Linked DNA regions of Homo sapiens: regions 1 and 2 are each linked to region 3. Evidence: fine-mapped expression QTL. A gene starts in region 3. Each other region holds a variant in brackets. All regions are shown on one strand. Distances are from middle to middle.

The links. PIP is the estimated chance that this variant, and not a neighbour inherited with it, causes the effect.
Region 1: its variant is the best candidate, but not a certain one, in a credible set for the expression of PGPEP1L in atrial appendage (GTEx, PIP 0.88).
Region 2: its variant is the best candidate, but not a certain one, in a credible set for the expression of PGPEP1L in esophagus muscle (GTEx, PIP 0.56).

The regions. Positions count from the first base shown.
Region 1 is chr15:98,976,186-98,981,185 of GRCh38, reverse strand. The region is part of intron 2 of PGPEP1L (pyroglutamyl-peptidase I like); the gene reads left to right. Among named protein-coding and RNA genes, the nearest start is that of PGPEP1L, 29 kb to the left of the region's middle. The variant T/G (reference allele first, on the strand shown) is at 2,753.
Region 2 is chr15:98,962,665-98,970,547 of GRCh38, reverse strand. It overlaps PGPEP1L (pyroglutamyl-peptidase I like), which reads left to right. Exons shown (of 5, transcript NM_001167902.2): 4 at 897-1,123; 5 at 1,851-2,319. The coding sequence starts at 915. The coding sequence ends at 2,070. It overlaps IGF1R (insulin like growth factor 1 receptor), which reads right to left. Exons shown (of 21, transcript NM_000875.5): 21 at 6,018-7,883. Among named protein-coding and RNA genes, the nearest start is that of PGPEP1L, 41 kb to the left of the region's middle. The variant T/GT (reference allele first, on the strand shown) is at 1,973.
Region 3 is chr15:99,002,407-99,013,315 of GRCh38, reverse strand. PGPEP1L (pyroglutamyl-peptidase I like) reads left to right here and starts at 5,524. Exons shown (of 5, transcript NM_001167902.2): 1 at 5,524-5,957; 2 at 7,660-7,887.

The sequences.
Region 1 (5,000 bases), 29 kb after region 3:
TGATGGTTTTGAAGAGTCTGGCCAGGAATTGATAGTTTGTTCCTCAATTGGGACTTTTCTGCTGCTTTTCTCATGATCAGACTGAGGTTAGGGGGAGGAAGACAGAGGTAAAGTGTCACTTTCATCCTGTCAGATCAAGGGCACACAGTATCAGTGTGACAGCACTGTCCATGATGACCTTGATCTTACTTGGTGGAGGGAGTGTTTGTCAGGCCTCTCTACCATACAGTTAATTTTTTTTTTTTTCCTTTTCCAGATGGAGTCTCTCTGTGTCACTGAGGCTAGTGTGCAGTGGGGGTGATCTTGGCTCAGTGCAAGCTCTGCCCCCCAGGTTCGAGCAATTCTCCTGGCTCAGCCTCCTGAACAGCTGGGACTACAGGCACATGCCACCACGCCTGGCTAATTTTTGTATTTTTAGTAGCGACGGGGTTTCACTCTTTTGGCCAGGCTGGTCTCAAACTCCTGACCTCAGGTGATCCGTCCACCTCGGCCTCCCAAAGTGCTGGGATTACAGGCGTGAGCCACTGCACCTGGCCACCATACAGTTACTTTTTGTCCCCACTTCTATCCTGTCCTCTTTGGAAGGAAGTAACTCTGCGCAGCCCACACTCGAGTGGGGGAGTTCCTCTCTGCTTCAGGGTAGAGGAGTTACATCGGTTACTGGGAGTGCAAGTGCATGAGAGAGCTGAGTCCTCCTCCTGGACCCACTTACTTATTTGTTTACTTATGTATGTAGTCATTTCATTAGATCAGGATGGACTCATGAATATTTATTTCTCATATTTTGGCCTATGGCTTGTTTCCTTTTGAAAGTCTGTCTCCTCCTGAAACCTTTTCCTCCCCCCTCCTCCCTTTACTATCCTAGGACAATGCCTCCCTGATCGTTCAGGTTTCTCTGCTCCAAGGGAAATGGCACGAGTCCACACTTTGTTTTTATGGCTGTGTGTTTAGCTGTATTAAAAGTTAGACTAAGTTGGACACTTTTCATTTATTTATTCTTTATTTTCATAAGTTTTTGGGGAACAGGTGGTATTTGGTCACATGAGTAAGTTCTTTAGTGGTGATTTGTGAGATTTTGGTGCAGCATCACCCAAGCAGTATACATGAACCCAATTTGTAGTCTTTCATCCCTCACCTGCTTCCCACCCTTTCCCATCGAGTCCCCAGTGTCCATTGTATCATTCTTATGCCTTTGCATCCTCATAGCTTAGCTCCCACTTATGAGTGAGGACATATGGTGTTTGGTTTTCCATTCCTGAGTTACTTCACTTAGAATAATAGTCTCCGAGGCAGGCAGATCACAAGGTCAGGAGTTCGAGACCAGCCTGGTCAATATGGTAAAACCCCATCTCTACTAAAAATACAAAAATTAGCCGGGTGTGGTGGCACTCGCCTGTAGTCCCAGCTACTGTGGTGGCTGAGGCAGAAGAATCGCTTGAACCCGGGAGGCAGAGTTGCGGTGAGCCAAGATTGTGCCATGGCACGCCAGCCTGGGTGACAGAGTGAGACTCTGTCTCCAAAAAAAAAAAAAAAAAAAAAAAAAAAAAAAAAAGAATAGTCTCCAATCCCATCCAGGTTGCTATAAATGCCATTAATACATTTCTTTTTATGGCTGAGTAGTATTCCATCCTATCTATATACCGCAGTTTCTTTATCCACTCATTGATTGATGGGAATTTGGGCTGGTTTCACATTTCTGCAATTGCAAATTGTTGGGCACTTATTAAATAACCACACTACTTATATATAGAAGTCTGTGCTGTGTTGCTATGTGCATGTCCTCCTGTTCTTGTACTCATCGCCTACCATATTTTATTGATGCAAAGAGCCAGGTGTTTTTTGGTTTTTTTTTTGTTTTAATTTTGGCATCCTGAAATCAGATGAATCTCACAGGCAGCTGCATCTTATGCTTTGTCATAGTTGAGCAGTACTTTTACTGTCTTGCTGGTTCGTACAGTAATGCTCGATGTTCCATCTCTGGGACTTAGATTTGATGAAATCCATCACATCCTTCCTGGGTTACGCACTCTGTCAGCATGGGAAACAGTCTGACCTGTTTATCTTGTTTCACAGAATCCAGACCAGAATCTTGAGGGCATTGGGGCTATATTTGTGCTGCCATAAATGTAATAAAAATATATATATATATATATCCTGTAGCCAGGCGCGGCGGCTCACACCTGTAATCCCGGCAGTTTGGGAGGCCAAGGTGGGCGGATCACGAGGTCAAGAGATCGAGACCATCCTGGCCAACATGGTAAAACCCCATCTCTACTAAAAACACAAAAATTAACTGGGCGTGATGGCGCGTGCCTGTAGTCCCAGCTACTCGGGAGGCTGAGGCAGGAGAATTGCTTGAACCCGGGAGGCGGAGGTTGCGGTGAGCCGAGATCATGCCACCGCACTCCAGCCTGGTGACAGAGCAAGACTGTGCCTCAAAAAAAAAAAAAAAAAAAAAATATATATATATATATATATACACAGTCTAATGCTAGAGAAAAAGACACAAATAAGTGGGGCCCTGGAAATCAGGCAGGTTACTTAGGGCAGCAGAATGTCTAATTTGGTCCAGGATTCAGAAGATAAGTCTTAGTTCTTTTCCGTTCTACACAGTTTTTTTTGGGGAAAAAACAAAAAAGGGAAGTCTACTGGGCAAACCTTTTCTCATCTCCATCCTCACATCCACTTCCATGGTACAAATCTTGAAAAATGTCAGCATTACATTACAGATGCCAAATCTGGGATTCCAAAA[T/G]CCAGTAGGCCTGCCTGGGCCTGCAGGCTGTGAGCCAGTTTGAGATGCCATTAATTAGGTCCCTGGACTCTACACTGACATCTGTAATCACAGATGATTACTCCATACCCCAGACCAGCCTTGGGAAGTTGCACCTCTCAGGGGTGCCCCGACTCTCCCAGTTTCGGGTTCCACTCTGGGCCCTAGTGCTCACACACAGCGCCTTCTCTTTCATCAGGGAAGCATGTGTGCTGCTGTGTTTCCTCTCTTGCAGGCATTTGCAAAATTATCTAGACAGGGACTAATGAACCGAAAAGATCTCTGGAGGTGAAATTTCAGGCACTGGGTCCCCAAGAGATGGGGAAATGGTTGGGGAGCCACAAGATGCCTTTTGGGCAGCAGCCCTCAGCCAACAGCCTGCTGGGCTCACCCTATTTTTTGCCCACTTGTAAGACTATTCCTGACCTTTACCTCCCTTGAGAGCTGTGTTCTAGAGCTCACAATGTGGAGTCAGAATGTCGTGTAGCAATTAGGTATTAAGCATTCAATGAACCATGGTCAATAAATAAGACATAATAGATGTAAACATTCATGCTCCTAATAACAGTGCTTGTAAAATACGTGCAGCAAAAACTAATAGAACTTTAAGGAGAATAGATAAATTCACAGTTAATAGTCAACGATTTCAGTACCCCTCTCAATAACGGACAGAACACATAGACCAAAAAGGATACAGCAGACTTTAACAACACTACCAACCTACCAGACCTCATTGACATTTGTAGAACACTCCACCCAGCATGGAACACACTCTCATATGTGCATATGCAGTGTTTGCCAAGACAGAGACTATACCCTGGGCCATAAAACCAGTCTGAATAAATTCAAAAGGATTCAGGTCACATAAAGTGTGTTCTCTGGCCACAGTGGATTTTAATTAGAAATCAATAACAGACATCTGGAAATTTCCTAAATTTTGGAAACCAAACAAGATACTTCTAAATAAGCCAGAGATGAAAGGAGACATAAAAAGGAAATTAGCAAGCATTTTGAAATGAATGAAAATTAAAACATATCAGAGGGAAATTTATGGCACTAAACAATATTATAGCAGAAGAAAGTTCTCAAATCAGTGACTTTGATTTCTATCTTAAGAAACTAACAGAACAAATTAAACTAAGCAGAAGAAAGGTAATAGTAAAGATGAAAGCAGAAATCAATGAAGTAGCAGAAATATAACAATAGAAATCAAACCAAAACCCAAAAGTTAATATTTTGAGAAAATTAATAAAATTGATAAACCTTCATTTAGATTGATCAAGAAAAAAAATAAAAGACCATTTCTATTAACTTTTAAATATATTTACCATGGCCTGGCCTCCAGGCCTGGTTCCATACTCAAACTACTCTTATCAAAGTCACTACAGACTTGTTTTTTTTTTTTTTTTTTTGCCATTTTACTTGACCTCTCTAGGGTCCTAATAATCATTATGGTGGATACAGTATTGTTGTACCCATTATACAGGTGAGGAGCATGAGGCCCAAGTTGACCAGGCCCTCCTTGTTTCTCCTCTTGTTAACTTGAAAGGTTGCTGTGATAATTCAGTGAAATAAAATAATAATCTGTAAAAATGTATTATCTCCACTAAAATTTTCATGTCTTTACTCATGTCTCTGAGATGCAGCAAGTAAACATAATCTACTCATGAGCTTCCCTTACCAAGACCATGCCCTCCTCCAGCCAGCTCACCGTGCTCAGGCCTCAGCCACCAGAAAATTCTGGAGTGGCCACTGCCCCTCCTTGCCTCTTCTGTTCCTAGGAAAACATCTATGTTTTGATCTGGGTTTTTGCAATACAGCATTTATATGGGAATAATTGCCATCCATAATGATTTCTCTTCAGGACACCTCAAGTCCTGAGACATTTTCAGCAAACCAGCAGCTTAAATACTGTTAGGCTTCAGATTTTATTGTTGTGATATGAGAAAATGACTTTTAGATTGTGATTCCATAGAACTCTAGAAGGCTTTCAGATATGGAAAAGAGTATGCTTAGTTAAAATCCCAACTTAATTATTATCCCTGAGGGATGTTAGCCTGAGCTAAATGATTTACTACGGATTTAGTCTTCGTTCAGAGCAAACTTTTTAGTCAGGTTAAAAAATGTTGGTGATGGTGAAAGCCATAATTTTCTTAAAATTATGGTAAAATATGTATAACATTGATGTATAACATTAAATTTACCATTTTAACCCTTTAAAGTGTACAAG
Region 2 (7,883 bases), 41 kb after region 3:
ACCCCAAACAAGGACCAGATGTGATGAGGTTAATAAAACATACACTATCAAGCCATTCAGACAATGCCCCAGATGTTTTGATAACATACTTGGGCAGCTATTTTTCAAAAAGGAAAAATAATCAGCTTGAATAAATTCTAAGAAGATTTCACTGGATGGCCACTAACTTCCTTTATTAAAGTTTCATTTAAAAAAAGATGCAGGAGGCGGGCACGGTGGCTCCCACCTATAATCCCAGCACTTTGGGAGGCCGAGGCAGGCGGATCACTTGAGGTCAGGAGTTTGAGACCAGCCTGGCCAACATGGTGAAATCCCATCTCTACTACAAATACAAAAATTAGCTGGGCGTGGTGCACCTGTAGTCCCCGCTACTCGGGAGGCTGAGGCAGGATAATCACTTGAACCCGGGAGGCAGAGGTTGCAGGGAGCTGAGATGGTGCCATTGCACTCCAGCCTGGGTGATACAGCCAGACTCTGTCTCATAAAAATAAATAAATACATAAATAAAATATAAAATAAAAAGATTCAGGATTCCACCAAAACACGAAGACTCTGCTGTGGTAGCCTCACCACTTACTAGCTTGCCTCTCCTCCCTCCAACCCTCCCCCCACAAAAAGAGAATACATTACCCTGTAAGAATAATTTGAAGTAAAAAGCATTTAAATGTAAATGCAGCATGAGTTTTTATTCAGCTAAAAGAATCCAGCTGTTTTTCTTTCCAGCCATATTAATTAGGAGACACTGGTGGGGGATCCTGGGGTTTCCCAGTGGATTTGGGGTTTGAGATGTTTTGCACAGAGCCGGGCTCTCAAAAGGAGTGGCCCCTTCTGCACATTTGGTGAGCAGGGTGGGCCTCGTTTTCCTGGGTTCTCTCTGCTGTTACCCGTTCACACAGCTCGTCGTGCATGTGGGCATGGACACCGCCGCCAAGGCGATCATTCTGGAACAGTCTGGCAAGAACCAAGGCTACCGGGACGCCGACATCCGCAGCTTCTGGCCCGAGGGCGGCGTGTGCCTACCTGGCAGCCCAGACGTGCTGGAGTCAGGGGTCTGCATGAAGGCAGTCTGCAAGCGCGTAGCTGTGGAGGGTGTCGACGTGATCTTTTCCCGAGATGCAGGCAGGTATGCTCTGTGGGTGTCAGGACTCTGAGCAGGTAGGAGAGAAGCAATGGCCGTCAGCGTCCCCCCGACCTCCAAGAAGCCATCCTGTATCGTCCAGCTGGCCACTTGGCCATGCGGTGCCGCCCCCAGATTGCCCCTCTTTGCTGTGTGCAGGCCAGCACAGTTGCTCACACCTTGCCTGAGGTCTCGTTTGTGAGACCTGCCTGTGGAAACACGGTCTTTGGTGTGTTGATCTAGGAGAAGAGATGGGAAGGCAGACTTCAAGAGCCACTAACATTTCGTGAATGTTTTCTGATTTTGATTTTTGGGGTGACCGAAGTTGTGAGTTAACTGTGTTGATGTAGCCCCAGATAAAGATTGATTTACCTTTGTTTCTCCAAACTCCGATCCCCAGTAGGTGGTTTTTCCCCTTTCCCCAGTGAATGAATGAGTAAGTGACTCAACGAAGACATGAATGAGAGGGATTCACTGGGATGCAGGTGCTGTGGAATATCTGACCCCTTTCTGCCTTGGCCACTTGCCGGTCATGAGGCCATGAGGCCAAGAGCCAGCTCTCCCCAGCTCATCCTGGCACCATGTTCTTTCTGAGGTGAAACAACACAAGTCTCCCTTGGGTGGCAGTGCTCCCTCCTCAGGCTTTGTGGGTGTTGCATTGCCACTTCTGCGTATGTTTCACTGAGGTTAGAGGCTGGTCCGAGAATTAATGTGGCATTTCCTGTGGTTGCAGATACGTCTGTGATTATACCTATTACCTGTCTCTGCATCATGGAAAGGGCTGCGCGGCACTCATCCATGTCCCTCCACTATCGCGCGGGCTCCCGGCCAGCCTGCTGGGAAGAGCCTTGAGAG[T/GT]CATCATCCAGGAAATGCTGGAAGAGGTGGGAAAGCCCAAGCACAGAGCCCAGTTCGAAGAAAACTCAACCATGGTCCTTCCAGCCAAAGGGAACTGACCGGGGGATTGCTCCTCTAGAGAAAATTGAATGTTTCAATCCTGTATGTAGCACTCAACTGTGCATTGAGAAACTTTTTCAAAAATTGCTTGTAAGACAAAGAGGGTGGAAAACTCTGAATTAGCCCAACAAAATCACAAAGGGTTATTTTATTGTCAGGAGAAAGAACACTCTGAAAGGTGGACATTTCACAGGGGATGAACTAGCTTCAGTTATGGTTTTCATGACAATAAAATGAAATCCGAGTCATCTGTTTTCTTCCAAAAATCTACACAGTGGGTCTGTGTGATCCTGCGCAGACTGTGGGGACCACAGACCTGTTTTGGAGATGCTTACAGAAGCACAGAGACAGCCGCTGCTCCAGGGACCCCATTCCTGGCCTTTGAGCTTGTGTGTCCAGGTCCTGGGTAGCCTCGAAGCCACCGAGGCTCTACTGTATGATTTCTCTGTCTCTGTGTTTGCCCCTTTTACTACTCATTTTAATAATTTCAAGCATACAGTTCAGTAGTATACAGTACATTTCCTTGTTGTACAACCATCACCACCATCCATCTCCAGAACTTTCTCCTCATCCCAAACTGAAACTCTGTACCTATTAACTCCCTATTCCTTCTTCCTCCCAGCACTTGGTGCTCACCACTCCACCCTCCATCCCTATGAATCTGACTGTAGGTAGCTCATATGAGGGAGTCATGCGGCGCTGGTCCTTCTACATCTGGCGTATTATTTCAGCCTCATGTCCTCCAGGTTCATCCATGTTGTAGCATGGGACAGGATTTCATTCTGTTGAAGGCTGAATAATATTCCAGTGTATGTATGGACCACATTTCATCCATTCAGCTGTAGATGAACACTTACGTTACTTGCTCCTTTTGGTTCTTGCAAATCATGCTGCTACAAACACTGGCGTGCAAATATGTATCCGAGTCCTTGCTTTCAGGTCAATCTCCAGAGGTGAATTCCTGGATTCAATGCTAATTCTGTGTTTAATTTTTTAAGGAACTGCCATTTTGTTTTGCACAGGGGCTGCACCATTTTACAGTCACACTGGTAGTGTTTGGTTTGAAGGCGCAGGTTAATAGCCGGGCTTAGCTTCTCTCCATGGTGTCTTCCCTTTTTAAAAGCAGAATCTCCTTTCTGTTTCATGTTTTGTTTTGCTTTTATGACACAGCACCGGGTCTTGTGCCAAGCTTCTCCCAGCAAGATTCTACCTGTTCAGTGTTTTCTAGGGGCAGATTTCCTTTGGGAGTCCCATTGGTAACATCGCTTTTTTTTTTTTTTTTGGAGGAAGTGAGTGAAGGTAGGTGAGCTCTGGGAAATTTCTTGTTACGTTGGTGTGCTTACAACTACCATTTTTCACTTGACTACATTTAAAAAATTCATCAGTTAGTGTTTGGATTCATTCACTATTAAGAAAAGCATTTGCAGCTTCCTAACAAAGGAACCAGGCCAGGCGCAGTGGCTCACACCTATAATCCCAGCACTTTGGGAGGCTGAGGTGGGCGGATCACTTGAGGCCAGGAGTTCAAGACCAGCCTGACCAACATGTGAAACCCAGTCTCTACTACAATTACAAAAACATTAGCCGGGTGTGGTGGTGGGTGCCTATAATCCCAGCTACTTGGGAGGCCGAGGCAGGGGAATCGCTTGAACCCAGGAGGCGGAGGTTGCAGTGAGCCGAGATTGCACTATTGCACTCCAGCCTGGTCAATAAGAACAAAACTGTGTCTCAAAAAAAAAAAAAAAAACAAACAAAAACCCACAAGAAAACCAAAGGAAGCAGTCAAGGCCGCCAGCACGCTTTTTGCATTTGGAGTAGCCTTTAGGGGACTCCCTTTGCAAGTACACCTGGATCATTTGCTAGAAAACAGATCAAAGCCCACATATTGGGGGATGGGGGGAGGTGGTGCTGGGCGGTGTGCACAGGTCTGGCTGCATGGTTGCTAATGTGGAGATCTGTCTCTGCTATGGGCAATTCTGTCCCAGGACACTGGCAAGCAAGGGGCCCCCAGGACTGGGCTCCAGTGTTATATTTCAGACTGCCTGGCAGCATGCCATAACATTTTTTAAATTTTTAGATATTATCCAGTTGGGAGGCCCAGAGCTCCCTCTTCAAGAACTTCCCCATCATTTCCCCCCGCTGTGGCCCCTGAAGTTCTCCAGGGAGAACCCCAGAAGTCTCATTCACACCTGGGCTGTGTACTTCACCCAGCATCCCTTGTCAGTATGCACAGAGCCTGCTTAGTTCTGGCAGTGCTGAAGCCAGATTGAGAACCACAGCAGAAAAGGCTGAGAGGCTGAGTCCTGAGTTGGTAGCTGGTGGGGAGGTGGGGGGGCGGGGGAGGGGTCTTGAGCATGCCTGTATGTTTGCTCATCTGTAAGAGTAATTAAAATCCTTCCTTTGCAGGGTGATTGTGAACATCTGGTGAGAGAATGGATGTGAAGGTCTTTTTAGCAACATTAGAACACTACAAAAATCACACATCTGAGTGAGTATGGACTCATACCTGGACTTGGGGGGTAAATGCAGAAATAGCTCTTGAGGGCTTGCAGTCTTAAGAAATGGCCTGGAGGGGAAAGGTTCTAATGCTTCTGAAGACCCAGCACCTTCATCCTTAGATATTGCTGCTCCTTCTGGCTGGGCAGGCCAAGTGCAGACTGCACTGTGGCAACCTGGAAGGGCAGCATCTACCTGACCAGGGAAGGAGGAGGCCCTGTTGGGCTTTCCAGCCTCAGAATTGAGACCTCCTCATCATCAGTCACCTAATGAAGATCCCCTGAGTGCCAGGCACTCGGTGACAACACTGAGCAGTAACCCTGAAGCAATGCCAAGCTTGAGTACCCTTTTTGAGACAGAGTCCTACTCTGTCACCCAGGCTGCAGTACAGTGGCACAATCTTGGCTCACTGCAGCTTCTGCCTCCTGAGTTCAAGAGATTCTCCTGCCTCACCCTCCCAAGTAGCTGGGATTACAGGCACCCGCCACCATGTCCCACTAATTTTTTGTATTTTTAGTAGAGATGGGGTTTTACCATGTTAGCCAGGCTGGTCTTGAACTCCTGACCTCATGTGATCCACCCACCTCAGCCTCCCAAAGTGCTGGGATTACATGCGTGAGCCACCGCACCCCAGCTGAGAGTCCCCTTTCAGAAAGGCCTTTGCTTTTAGGTGCAAACACTTCTGAGGCTCAACAGGTCTGAAGTAACCATGGTCTTCGGTTTACTTCTACCTATACATTGCTGGACAGCTCTTCTTCTACTGGCCCGATTTTGCTATTGGAGCATAATTTCCCATGATAAAGTTGAAGGAAATGACCAGCTTCTCTGCCTGATGTGTCTGAATCCTTAGTCTGATTCTAGAACACACCTTGCCATACATGCCATTTCCCCTGACAAAAATAATGTTTACATTGTAGGGTCCCTAGGGGCAGACAGAGATCACTGAGCAGCAGCTAGAAAGTAACTAGGACTTTGGAGCTCCTCCAGTGACCCACATTCTGCGTGAGGCCCACTGGGTTCTCACCAGCATCCCCCCGAGGTGGGCATGTCAGCTGTGAAAGACCAAAAAGCACATGGGAAATGTGAAGAACTGAAGTCCTCTGCCTTGGGGTCATGCAGATCAGACTTGCCTTGGCCTGACTGTTGTTAGTGGAAGGTATAGGAAAAAAGTCTACAAATCAGTCGGAACTGCAGTACAGAGTTTCGTAATTTATGTATTCAAATTTCTTTCCAGATGATTTAATGGAGGGAGAAACAGATAGCTTCCCTGTCGTCTTTACTGGCAATCTGCATGCTGAGAAAGCTCAGCTGTCAGAGAAGAGGCAATGCTTTTCTGGAGAACGCTTCCAGGCAACATGCGTGAACACACGTGCCCCACATAGCTCAGCTTCCCTGCCACCAAAGTGTAGTGATGCTTCCAGGAGGGACAAAACCAAACCAGAGACAGAAATGCATACAGAATTATTTTATTTAACTTAAACCATGTAGTACTTTACTAGAAAAAAGCAGAGTAAGAGAAACTAACGTTGCCTTAGCTTCAGCCATTCAAAATAGACAGTTTCTTTTTTCCATTATGTAAAGAATCCAGAGTATATCGCAATAACAGGAATAAATTCTTACAACAGAATATACAAAAACATTTTGAAATTTTTTTCATCTACTGATTTTTTATATAAACAGGATTTTTTAGGAATAATTTATACACAGAAAGTCATTTTATGTAACAAATTGGCCATGTTATTACCTTTTTTTTTCTTACTTAAAAAAATTTTTTTTTAACAAGAAAACTCAGAAAATGCATTATTTGCGGTGCATCCATTCCATCCCGCCTTCTGGTTTGATTTTTTTTATCCCAGACAAAGGGATACCCAGAGGTAGACAAACTCTGGCAAACCTCTCACCTCAACCTCACTGGCTTAGAAAGCAGACAGGTGTTTTCACCGGGCGTCTCTTCCACCGGTGGATGTGTGTGTGCAACGCCAAACATCCAAATGAAAAGTTGAAAACAAAACCCAAATAGTTTCCAGATCTTTCTCCTATGTAGCGCAAAAACCCCAGGTGTTTCCCATGATAGAGATATTGTGGAGTTGGGGAGACATGGCCAACAATCCACTGGAGTTAGAGGAAGTGGAGTCAACTTTAAAACCAATTTTTGTGTATGTTATAGTTTTTATTAAAAATTCTTTTCTGTATTGGAAATACGTATCTTCGGGGTTCTGCCTTAAATAAAATAGGGTCTCTTCTGTGTTCTAACAAAGCAGTAATCAGTCATGATACGAGGCATGTAAGCAAATGGCCTGTGTGCCCCATAGCTGTCATCGTTTATGTGATCACTGTGTATGCTGTAATCATCATGAAAACCATTGGCTGTGCAGTCAAGTCTTCCCATGTCCATGGCACTGTGCTGACAATGACGGCAGCCAGACCAATCAAGCCAGATGCCGAACGGTGCCATGCACTGCTGGGCTCCAACACCTCGGCTGTTTCCATGGCCAATGAGGTTCTTTCCATCTGTTAAAGTAGCTACACTCCAAAGGGAAATGACCAGTAAAAAATGATCCCCTTCCCAACCAGAGGGTTCTGGAAGACCAAGATACTGAAGATACAGAACTACTTTTTAAATCATCATCATTCCTTTGTTATAAACTAGGGCAAAAAGCATGGGGGGAAAAGAGGGTGAACCACGGATGGGGTCAGGGAGAAATCCTTTTTTGGCATATTGTAAAGCTAGCTAGTAAACAGGTGTCCTAAAAAAAAAAAAAAAAAATGGATCACAAACACACATTTGCACACACAGAGAAAAAAAAAGTGTCTTTAAATTATTTTCGGCAATTATAAACTACAAACATTTTATAAAATTATTCTGTTCTTACAAAAATGCAATGAAACATTTAATTAGTTCTTGTAAACCAGATCTTCGTCAACTGACTACCCGTAATCTACTGGACTTAAGAGCCCTATTGAAAACGCTAATGAGTGACTAGTTAAAACAATGTTGACCAGAAAGATGCGGACACACACACGTGGGACATAAAAATGAGTGATCGTTATGTTCTCGCAGAAACAAAACGCTAAAGTCATGCCCCAGAACTGACAACTGACGAGTGCGATGTAGTTTGTGTTCTTGAACAATTCGCCTTAACTCCGAGATCAGTTTCCAGAGTAGGATGTTAGGTTTCTTTGTTGAAACCAAATGCCCACGGATGACTGCTGAGCCTCGATGTGGTCTGATAGCTTCAAGAACAATCAAGTTCAAAACCTTGCCCACATTCCTTCCAAGCCCTGCACCCTGCTGCTCGTAACTCTTCTCTGTGCC
Region 3 (10,909 bases):
TTCAAGGTCTGAAGTATACATTTTTTGATGTACGTTTTTGTTACATTTTTTAAAGTTCTCTTGTTTTTAAAAAATAACATGTATAGGGCCGGGCGCGGTGGCTCATGCCTGTAATCCCAGCACTTTGGGAGGCCGAGGCGGGCGGATCACGAGGTCAGGAGATCGAGACCATCCTGGCTAACACGGTGAAACCCCGTCTCTACTAAAAATACAAAAAAAATTAGCCGGGCGTGGTGGCGGGCGCCTGTAGTCCCCGCTACTCCGGAGGCTGAGGCAGGAGAAGGGTGTGAACCCGGAAGGCGGAGCTTGCAGTGAGCCAAGATCGCGCCACTGCACCCCAGCCTGGTCAACAGAGCGAGACTCTGTCTCAAAAAAAAAAAAAAATTACATGTATAGAGCTTGAACAGTTCTTTTAAAATATGTATGTGTGTGTGTGTGTATACAGTATATATAAAGAATAATGAACTGAAAAGTTCCCTGCTTCTCATTCAACTCCTATATCCAAAGTCAGTATTAGTCAAATACCTCCTCTTTTCCTTTTAGTTTCTGAGTTTTGCGTCTCGCATGAGTATTTTGAAACTACTCCAAAACTAGAAAATAATTCTTCTAAATTTACTTCCAGTATTTTTACTGTCTTGATTTTCAGATTTGAATTTTAATCCAATCATAATTTACTGACCTATATGGCATAAGGAATGGATCTAGCTATATCTCATGGTTCCCACACCATTAAATGGTATATTCTTTCCGCTACTAATTTGAATTATCTCTTTAACTATATATTAAATTCTCATACACATTCTAGCTGTTTTATTGACAGTTTTCCTATTTCTACAACAACACTGCACTATTTTAATTACCCTAGCTTTTAGCATATATTTGGATATCTGGGAAGGCAAGCCAGTTGCATCTAGTCTTTAACATCGGTTTGCATTAACATTTTTAAAGTTTCGAATCTTCCCATTACAGAACATGGCATCCTTTGTTTTATTCGGGTCTTCTATGTTTTTTTCTTAAAGTCCCACAGTTTTCTTTTCTTTTTTCTTTTCTTTTTCTTTTTTTTTTTTTTGAGACAGAGTTTCACTCTTGTTGCCCAGGCTGGAGTGCAATGGTGCGATCTCGGCTCACTGCAACCTCCTCCTCCTGGGTTCAAGTGATTCTCCTGCCTCAGCCTCCTAAGTAGCTAGGATTACAGGCATGAACCACTACACCTGGCTAATTTTTGTATTTTTAGTAGAGATGGGGTTTCACCATGTTGGCCAGGCTTGTCTGGAACTCCTGACCTCAGGTGATCCACCTGCGTTGGCCTCCCAAAGTGCTGGGGTTACTAGCGTGAGCCACCGCGCCCAGCTAATTTTTGTATTTTTAGTAGAGAACAGGGTTTCACCATGTTGGCCAGGCTTGTCTGGAACTCCTGACCTCAGGTGATCCACCTGCCTCGGCCTCCCAAAGTGCTGGGATTACTAGCGTGAGCCACCGCACCCCGCCAGTTCCACAGTTTTCCACAAAAGGATCTCATACATTTCTTGCCAGGTTTATTCCTAGAGATTTCTGATATTTGAAGGGCATTGTGGATGGGCTCTTTTCTCCAATTACATTAGAATTAGTTATTGCTGATATATAAGAAAACTCTTAGGCCCTGAGAGGTGGCTCCCACCTGTAATCCCAACACTTTGGGAGGCCAAGGCAGGAGGATTGGTTAAGGCCAAGAGTTCAAGACCAGCCTGAGCAACATAGCAAGACTCCATCTCTACAAAAAAAAAAAAATTGAAAAATTAGCCAAGCATGGTGGCACACACCTGTGGTCCCAGCTACACAGAAGGCTGAGGCAGGAAGATCGCTTGAGCTCAGGAGTTTGAGGATGCAGTGAGCTCTGACAGTGCCACTGCACTCCAGCCTGTGTGTCGTCAGAGAGAAACACTATCTCTTTAAAAAGAGAAAGCTATTAGCTTCAGTATATACCAGTCTCATATCTAACCATTTTTAAGAGGTCCAGTAATTTTTAAAAATCAATGATCATAAATATTATAATCGGATTGTCTATAAATAAGCTGGATCGCTAAGCCTTCCTCAAACCTACTCAGCCACTTAGCACTCACTTCTGACACGAAAGTTACCTTTGGCCCCAGTCAAGAAAAAAAGAAAAATGCCTCTTACATGTGTATACTGGAAAATAGCGGCCCCTCGAAGGCCTGGTGCATGTTTTAGTGTGGCCCCTCTTCCATTCCAAGAGGATATTAAGCTCTCTGCTGCACCCTCCATCTGGCCTCATTTGTCTACACAGGAATTTCCTCAGTGTTAAGAACACAAATGTTCCAGTCATTCCTAAGATATTTGTGAAATTTGAAAGAAAAATCCAGTATTTAAACAATAGGGGTAACAAGCTACTGGATTTTAACAAGTAGAAAACTTCCTTTTGCAACAGTTGTTACTTTGCAGTCAAGGAGCTGTAGTCCCTAAAAAAAAAAGTGATCAAGGCTTAGCAAAAGTCTGAGGGAAAAATATAAGACAGAAGAAAAATAAAGACAAATCCTTCTCCTACAAAATGTAACAGAAATATCACCTTGCGACAGAGTCTCACTCTGTCGCCCAGGCTGGAGTGCAGCATGCGATTTCGGCTCACTGCAAGCTCTGCCTCCCAGGTTCACGCCATTCTCCTCCCTCAGCCTCCCGATTAGCTGCGACTACAGGCACTACTAAAATTAGCCGGGTGTGGTGGTGCACACCTGTAATCCCAGCTACTCAGGAGGCTGAGGCACGAGAATTGCTTGAACCGGGAGGCGGAGGTTGCAGTGAACCGAGATTGCACCACTGCACTCCAGCTTGGGCCACAGAGTGAGACCCTGTCTCAAAAAAAAAAAAAAAAAAGTCTACTACATTTATTCATTTATTTTATGGCCCTTTTCAGAAATCGTGTGCTGGCTGGCCCCTGCTGGGGTACAAAGCTGCAGAGGCAGAGGTATAGAGGAGGGTGAGTTCTGAATCTGCCTTGGTAGAGTGACATTATTGGAGGATCCCTTAGTGCTTTGACAAGAAGCAATTTGGCTATGGGTTGTGTTTTATAGTAGAGCTAAGTCGCTTATCTGGAAACAGTGATGTTTGACATGGAGAAAGACTTATGTTATCATTATTTTGGAAATCACAAGTGCTTCTTGCTGATTGATTTATTTTCTCCCCACCTCCCAAAGGAATTTGACCAGTTTGATTAAATTTCATTTATGTCAAGTGTACAAAATGTGTTGTAAGAGCTGTTTGTGTCAGAGACAGTAAACAAACCCCTTTAATCTTTTTTCTTGCGAGAGCAGGAAGTCACCACTTGCCAATGAGAAATTTAAAACAAATCCCACAAAGTTTTGAGTTTAGTTCAGCACGTGAAATAGTTGAGGTCTTGGGATCTTGTAATCTTGGCAACTCCCATTTGCTGTCCCTGGTGAGAACACTTGTGTACCGTTGCTTACTTTCCGGTTCACTAAGAGGGTCGCACCTTGCCCTCTTAATCCTAGAGTCAAATCTGATTACAAACATTTTCCTCTCGGGAATCCCGCTTGTAAGGAAGATCACTGTGCTCTCTGTTAAATAAAACAGCTCCATTTAGTTGCCTTATTCGTTCTCAGGCTTACTGTATTTCATCAGCCTAAAGACTGTGTTTGACATCAATTATTAGAGACCATTTGTTTTTACAATGGAAAAAGAAATAAAAGTGCAGATGTTGAACCTCAAAATCCATACTTCTCAGAGCTATTTTCATTCCAGAAAGTAGGAATGTGCTGGGGGGTTCTTGTGTGGGGAGAGGGGAGGTGAATGAATACAAAAATAGACATATCACTGTGACTAAGTAAAATATTTTGTGTTGTTTTTTCTATTAATTTCAAAATTAGAGAAAACTTTAGAACAGAAAAAAATAAGTGAATTATGGGAAAGTGAAAACTGCAGGACACATTCCAGTTTAGTTAAAATAATAGCTCCTGTCAAATCAAAAAAAAAATGATGAAAATTTCAGCTTTGTTATCAGAAAAGTAGTATGGTTAAAGATGGGCAGTCTTTGCACTTAAGGAGTCTCCTTAAACACAAGTTCCCATTCCCAGACCTCATAGGTGAATGTTGATAGCAGAGTTGGACCCTAGCAGCAACCAACTTTACAAATGTGGGCATTTCTGGACGGGCGCGGTGGCTCACGCCTGTAATCACAGCACTTTGGGAGGCCGAGGCAGGTGGATCACGAGGTCAGGAGTTCAAGACCAGCCTGGCCAAGATGGTCAAACTCTGTCTCTACTAAAAATACAAAAAATAGCCAGGGCTGGTGGCAGGTGCCTGTAATCCCAGCTACTCCGGAGGCTGAGGGAGAGAACTGCTTGAACCTGGGAGGCGGAGGCTGCAGTGAGCCGAGATCGCGCCACTGCACTCCAGCCTGGGCAACAGAGCGAGACTACATCTGAAAAAAAAAAAAAAAGAAGAAGTGGGCATTTCTTAATGGTCCAATCTCTTCCTTTAACTGTGCAGAGGAAGCCAAGCCCCCACTGAGAGGTGACAACATGCTGGTAGGCCTCGCAGCCGTCACTCACTCTCGGCTCCTCTGCCTGGGCTCCCACTTTAACGGCACTTGAGGAGCCCTTCAGCCCGCCGCTGCACTGTGGGAGCCCCTTCCTGGGCTGGCCAAAGCCAGAGCCGGCTCCCTCAGCTTGCGGGGAGGTGTGGAGGGAGAGACGCGGGCGGGAACCGGGGCTGCACGCCGCGCTTGCGCGCCAGTGCGAGTTCCGGGTGGGCGTGGGCTCGGCGGGCCCCGCACTCCAAGCAGCCAGCCCGCCCCGCCGGCCACGGGCAGTGAGGGGCTTAGCACCTGGGCCAGCAGCTGTTAGTGCTCGACTTCTCGCGGGGCCTTAGCTGCCTCCGTGCGGGGCATGGCTCGGGACCTGCAGCCCGCCATACCTGAGCCTCCTCCCCCGCGTCATGGGCTCCTGCGCGGCCTGAGCCTCCCCCACGAGTGCCGCCCCCTGCTCCACAGGACCCAGTCCCATCGACCACCCAACGGCTGAGGAGTGCAGGCGCACTGCACAGGACTGGCAGGCAGCTCCACCTGCGGCCCTGGTGCGGGATCCACTGGGTGAAGCCAGCTGGGCTTCTGAGTCTGGAAGGGACTTGGAGAACCTTTATGTTTAACTAAGGGATTGTAAATACACCAATGGGCACTCTGTATCTAGCTCAAGGTTTGTAAACACACCAATCAGCACCCTGTGTCTAGCTCAGGGTTTGTGAATGCACCAATCGACGCTCTGTATCTAGCTACTCTGGTGGGGACTTGGAGAACCTTTGTGTCCACACTCTGTATCTAGCTAATCTAGTGGGGACGTGGAGAACTTTTGTGTCCAGCTCCAGGATTGTAAACGCACCCATCAGCACCCTGTCAAAACGGACCAATCAGCTCTCTGTAAAACAGACCAATCGGCTCTCTGTAAAATGGACCAATCAGCAGGATGTGGGTGGGGCCAGATAAGAGAATAAAAGCAGGCTGCCCCAGGTAGCAGTAGCAACTTGCTGGAGTCGCCTTCTGTGCTGTGGAAGTTTTGTTGTTTTGCTTGTTTGCAATAACCGTTGCTGCTGCTTACTGTTTGGGTCCGCACTGCCTTTATGAGCTGTAACGCTCACCGTGAAGGTCTGCAGCTTCGTTCTTAAAGCCAGCCACATCACGGACCCACCGGGAGAAACGAATAACTCCAAACACGCCACCTTAAGAGCCGTAGCACTCATGATGAAGGTCCGTAGCTTCACTCCTGAAGTCAGCGAGATCACGAATCTGCCAGAAGGAAGAAACTCCGAACACATGCGAGCATCAGAAGAAACAAACTTGGGACACGCTGCCTTTAAAAACTGTAACACTCACCGCCAGGGTCCGCGGCTTCGTTCTTGAAGTCAGTGAGACCAAGAATCCGCCGATTCTGGACACACCATGACGGAACTAGGTAAGTGATAGGAGCTAGGAGAGCTGCTCACCAGAGGAGGTAGAGACCAAGTCTACAAGTGCATCCGGGGTATATTGAGAAACCGGGTAACTTCTGTGAAATGAGGCAAAGTACAAAAATCCTCTGCATCCCACTCATGGCAAGGTGGGCCCAGCTTCTCAGGACAGGGAGTGGGAGACTAGTGGGAGCAAATGGCGCTTCCCACCTGTTGGCAGTGAAGAGGCCTGCAGCCCACACCAGGAGCTAATTAAAGGGAATTGTTCCTGGTTCAGAATCCCAGAAAGCCACCAAGGGGGGTCTAATCCGCGGGGGTGATCCCAATTAAAAGGGAGCGCTTTATATCAGGAGGACAATTCAGCAGATGGAGCCACGTGGTCCTGCTGTCACACTGAGCTCTCTAGAGGCCGCAGGGTGCTTGAGAGGCTCTGCCTGCTTCCCTGAAGGGAGCTTCTCCTCCCCAGACCTAGATGGGGACAGAGAATCATGGGTCTTCTTCCTCTTAATATACAGCTTCAGGAAAAAAGTATTTTCAGTTTAAAAAAAAGTTTAAGAATATTTTTAGAGACAGGGTCTCACTCTGTCACCCAGGGTGGAGTGCAGAGGTGCAGTTACGACTGACGGCTCAAGTGATCCTCCCGCTTCAGCCTCCCTGAGAAGCCAGGACTATGGGCATATACCACGTTTTGAAAAAAATAATTGATGCAGTCTTGCCACGTTGCCCAGGTTGATCTTGAACTCCTGGCCTCAGGCTATCCTCCTACCTTGGCCTCTCAAAATGCTGAAATTAAAGGCGTGAGCCAGTGCACCTGGCCAAAAGTTTGTTTTGTTTTTAAATAGAATTCTCCGAAAGATCAAGATATTGGAAAACAGCTTTTTCGATAGAGGAAATAGCCTCAAATGTTAGCCTTTTTCAGTTATTCTGACACATTAAAAAGAGGACTGTCTGCAGAGCCAGGTGGCATGCCACGGCTGTGGCTCACTGTCAGTGGCATGTTTAAGGAGTCCAGCACAGTGTCAAGAAAGCACTTTTCGCAGGTAGAACGCAGGGTGGTGAGCACAGAGCTAGCAAGCTTGCACAGACGCTAGCTAGGTGGCAAGCCTCTGTTCCTCAGGGCTGATGAAGCTGGGGACAGTGCCTGGGGCACAGAAAGAATCCATACAGGATCCGGTGCTGCGATCCTCGTTTCTCAAAACAGGAAACCTGAGCACAGAGGTTAACTTCCCTGAGGACCCACAGCTCCTAGGCAGCGGTGCTTGCAATCAATATTTTAAAGGCAGGCGCCATAAGATTCATCTATGGTTTTCTCTCTTTTTTTTCTGCTCACATCTCACATATTTTGTGGAATTAGTTTTCAGAGCAATCAAATTTTACCAAATCATAATGGCCAAACACAATGAGGGGCTCTGGCAGGGATTACTAAAGAGGAAAAAATAAGATCTAAGTAAACGACTTGTAGGGTAGCCCACAGTTCCTAGGACAGTACCTCTTTGAGCACCATGTGGTGTTCCGTCCCAGACATCCTTCTGTCCCAGGCAAACCGGGACAGCTGGTAGCCAAACCCTTAGCTCACCTTTGAACCATCCTGAACAACAAAGTGACCCAGACTCAAATGTCCAGAAAGTCCCTGCTGGCGCTCCAACCCGCTGTCCTGAGCTGGATCGTTCTGCTTTCAAGGGGCATTGCTTTATCACCCTCCCCTAGATCCTTGGCCTTTCGGGGCCCAGAACGCTACGGACGCCGGGCGGCCAGGAGGGGTTGGGCTCCCGCTCCACCCCGGTCCCCGGCGAGCACGCGGCCAGGCAGAGAAGGTGCCCGGAGCTCAGAGCGCGCAGAGCCCGGCCGCTGGGCCGCTGCCTGAGCCAGGGAGGCGCAGCGCGAGCTCCCACTTCGTCTTCATGGATTCCCAGCCCAGCTGCGTGGTGGTGACTGGTAAGACTACATAATTTTTTTCTCTCCTATTTGTTGCTGCTTTTAGCCTGCCCCTGGAATGCGCACTGGCCTGATCCTGGGTCTTAAATAGTTCCCTGAGGGAAAAAAAGAATGGCAACTGGTGGTGCTAATAATTCCAGATGGAAACGAACTTGCTGCTGTGCCCTATTAATAAACAATCAGGATCACAGGCATTTCTGCTTCTGTGGCTCATTCGCTTCAAGTAACTCTCGAGTGGCGGGCACGAAGGTGCCACTGGTGGCTTAGGCTCAGACCTTGCCTTTCAACCCAGCAGGGAGGAAGCTGAGGCTGGTACCTGTTTTCCCTGAGTGGGGCCCGAGGCACGTGAGGTATCCCTTGGGGGTGCAGGCTCATAGCAAGGAAGAGGGATCTATACGCCCAGAAACCACAGGGCCCTCACAAGGCTTGCAAACCCATCTACAACAGCCACCCGCAAAGGAACACACAGTCCCCACTTCCAGAGTAAGAACTTCCATTTTTCAGGGAGCTGTGAAGCACCCCCCGAGAGCCACTAGCTGGAGACCCTGAGCCCCAGAAGGTCAACTTGGAAGGAATGGTGGCTGCTCACTCCTGCAAACACCAGCACATCCAGAGTCACCCCCACCCACACTTGCCTCACCAAGTCAGCATCCCAGCTGGTCCCTGGGGGCCTGATCTTCACAAAGGTCTTTATTTTTATTAATTTTTTTTTGAGACAGAGTCTTGTTCTGTCGCTAGGCTAGAGTGCAGTGGCGTAAGCTCAGCTCACTGCAGCCTCCGCCTCCTGGGTTCAAGCGATTCTCCTGCCTCAGCCTCCCGAGTAGCTGGGACTACAGGTACGCACCACCACGCCCAGCTAATTTTTGTATTTTTAGTAGAGATGGGGTTTCACCATGTTGGCCAGGATGGTTTCGATCTCTTGACCTTGTGATCTGCCCGCCTAGGCCTCCCAAAGTGCTGGGACTACAGGCATGAGCCACTGCGCCTGGCCCTATTTTTATTTTTATATTTTTAATTTTTCTGAGACAGTCTCCCTCTGTTGTCCAGACTGGAGTGCAGTGGCTCAGTCATAACTCACTGCAGCCTCAAACTCCTGGGCTCAAGTAATCCTCCCACCTCAGCCTCTGGAGTAGCTGGGACAACAGGCACTCACCACCACACCCCCCAATTTATTTTATTTTAGTTTTTAGTAGAAACAGGGTTTTCCTGTATTCCCCAGACTGGTCTCTAACTCCCGGGCTGAAGTGATCCTCCCGCCTTGGCCTCCCAAAATGCAGGGATTACAGGCATGAGCCATCATGTCCAGCCTTCATTTTTAGTTAGACACATTTGGCCGGTTTTAAGTTTTCTGAATTGTGTTGGATGAAGAGGCAGGGTTTCCTGGATGAATGGGAAATTGAAAGTTGTGTCGCTTAATCTTTTCAGACTATAATTCTAACTCCTATCGACCTTCAGAGAAAAAGTTCTTTGGGAAACCTTTTATCTCCCTTGCTCTTATTTGTGTTATTTTGGTTCTGGAGATTGAATGGTTCAAATTACTCTTGAATTCCTAAGGAAACTGTACTCTAATGCATGCAATGCTTGTCATGAATGAAATATGAACATTGAAGCACCATCTTAGAATCACACTGACCCCTGCCTTTGTCTTGTCAGCCTGTGGTTTGCTGGCAAACTGGAAATTGTTTGATGAAATACCTGATAATCAGCCATGATTTGGGAATGCCCGCTGGATTCCAGAGCGTGGCCTTCCTGTGTTAGAAATGCTTAGAGCTGCCAGGGGCAGTCTCTTCATTTAATTGGATTTGCTTCGTGTGTAAATCTCCTCAAGACAATTGGCATGTAGACAGATGGTGGGAGAACGAGGGCTCCGACAAATTGCTTCGAGATCAAAGTGTTCAGACTGGCACCAACGATAACCACAAGAGTGAGAAAACGTGCATCCCTCCCACGGGCCTCTCAGAATTCTAAGATTTCTCCAGCTCCGTTTGCAAGTTGCACTGGGGGCTGACCAAGTTTAAAGTGAGGTTTGAACTTGAAACACAAGAGCTTCAAACCTTCACTTGCAGAGTTGATTTTTCTAATTTAAAACAGATAAGAGATGTCATATTTGCTGATACAAATATGATTCTAAAGCAGAATGTGATTTTTGTGTGTGTTGCTGCATTTTTATTGTATTTTTATTATCCCAGGAGGTACCTGGCTTCTCAGTGCTTTTTTTTTTTTTTAATCTCACTATTTTCTATAACTGCCCTTTTTTTTTTCTGGCTGTTTCCAAGGGCAGCTAAAGTCTTATTTATTCTGAAGGATTTGGTTGAATCAGAGGACACCATGGGCTTTTTGGGACGTTCTGTCCAAAACTGTTTCATTCCCTCAGAAAGTTTTTACTTCCTCATGAGCCAACCCTGTTTGTGGGTCTAGACCCAGATGTTCAGGAATTGCAAAGGTATAATTCAAGTTTCTCTCCAGAACTGGTTCCTAGTCTAAAGGCCTGAGGTCCAGGGAGCTGGGTTCTCAGAGACTGACATTTAGTCACAGCCCTTTCCTCATCAAAGAATATGAATGACTTGAGAAATATGTCACAGGAATCAGAGGTGGAAATGTCACAGGAATCAGAGGTGGAACTGAAAACCTCAGCTGTACTCCGGGATAAAGCTGAGTTAGAGAATTCCACTTGTATCTGCAGCCCACTTAATTGAGCACCTGACTCCATCACAGGCATATCTGGCACTGGCTAGTCTCCCACACAGGAGGCCACACACTTTTTAAAACTTTTTATTTTGAAATAAATATAGGAATTTGCCAAGAAGTGTACAGAGGTTCCCTGTACCCTTTACCCAGCCTCTCCTGATATTGACATATTAACATTTTCAATATAAAAGCCAGGATATTGACATTGGTATAATTCAAAATTTGTGCTTGCAGTATGTGTGCGTGTGTGTGTGTAATTTCAGCTAGTGTAGCTTCCTATCACCACCACCACAATCAAGATACCTAGCAGTACCATCACCACAAAGCTCACTCG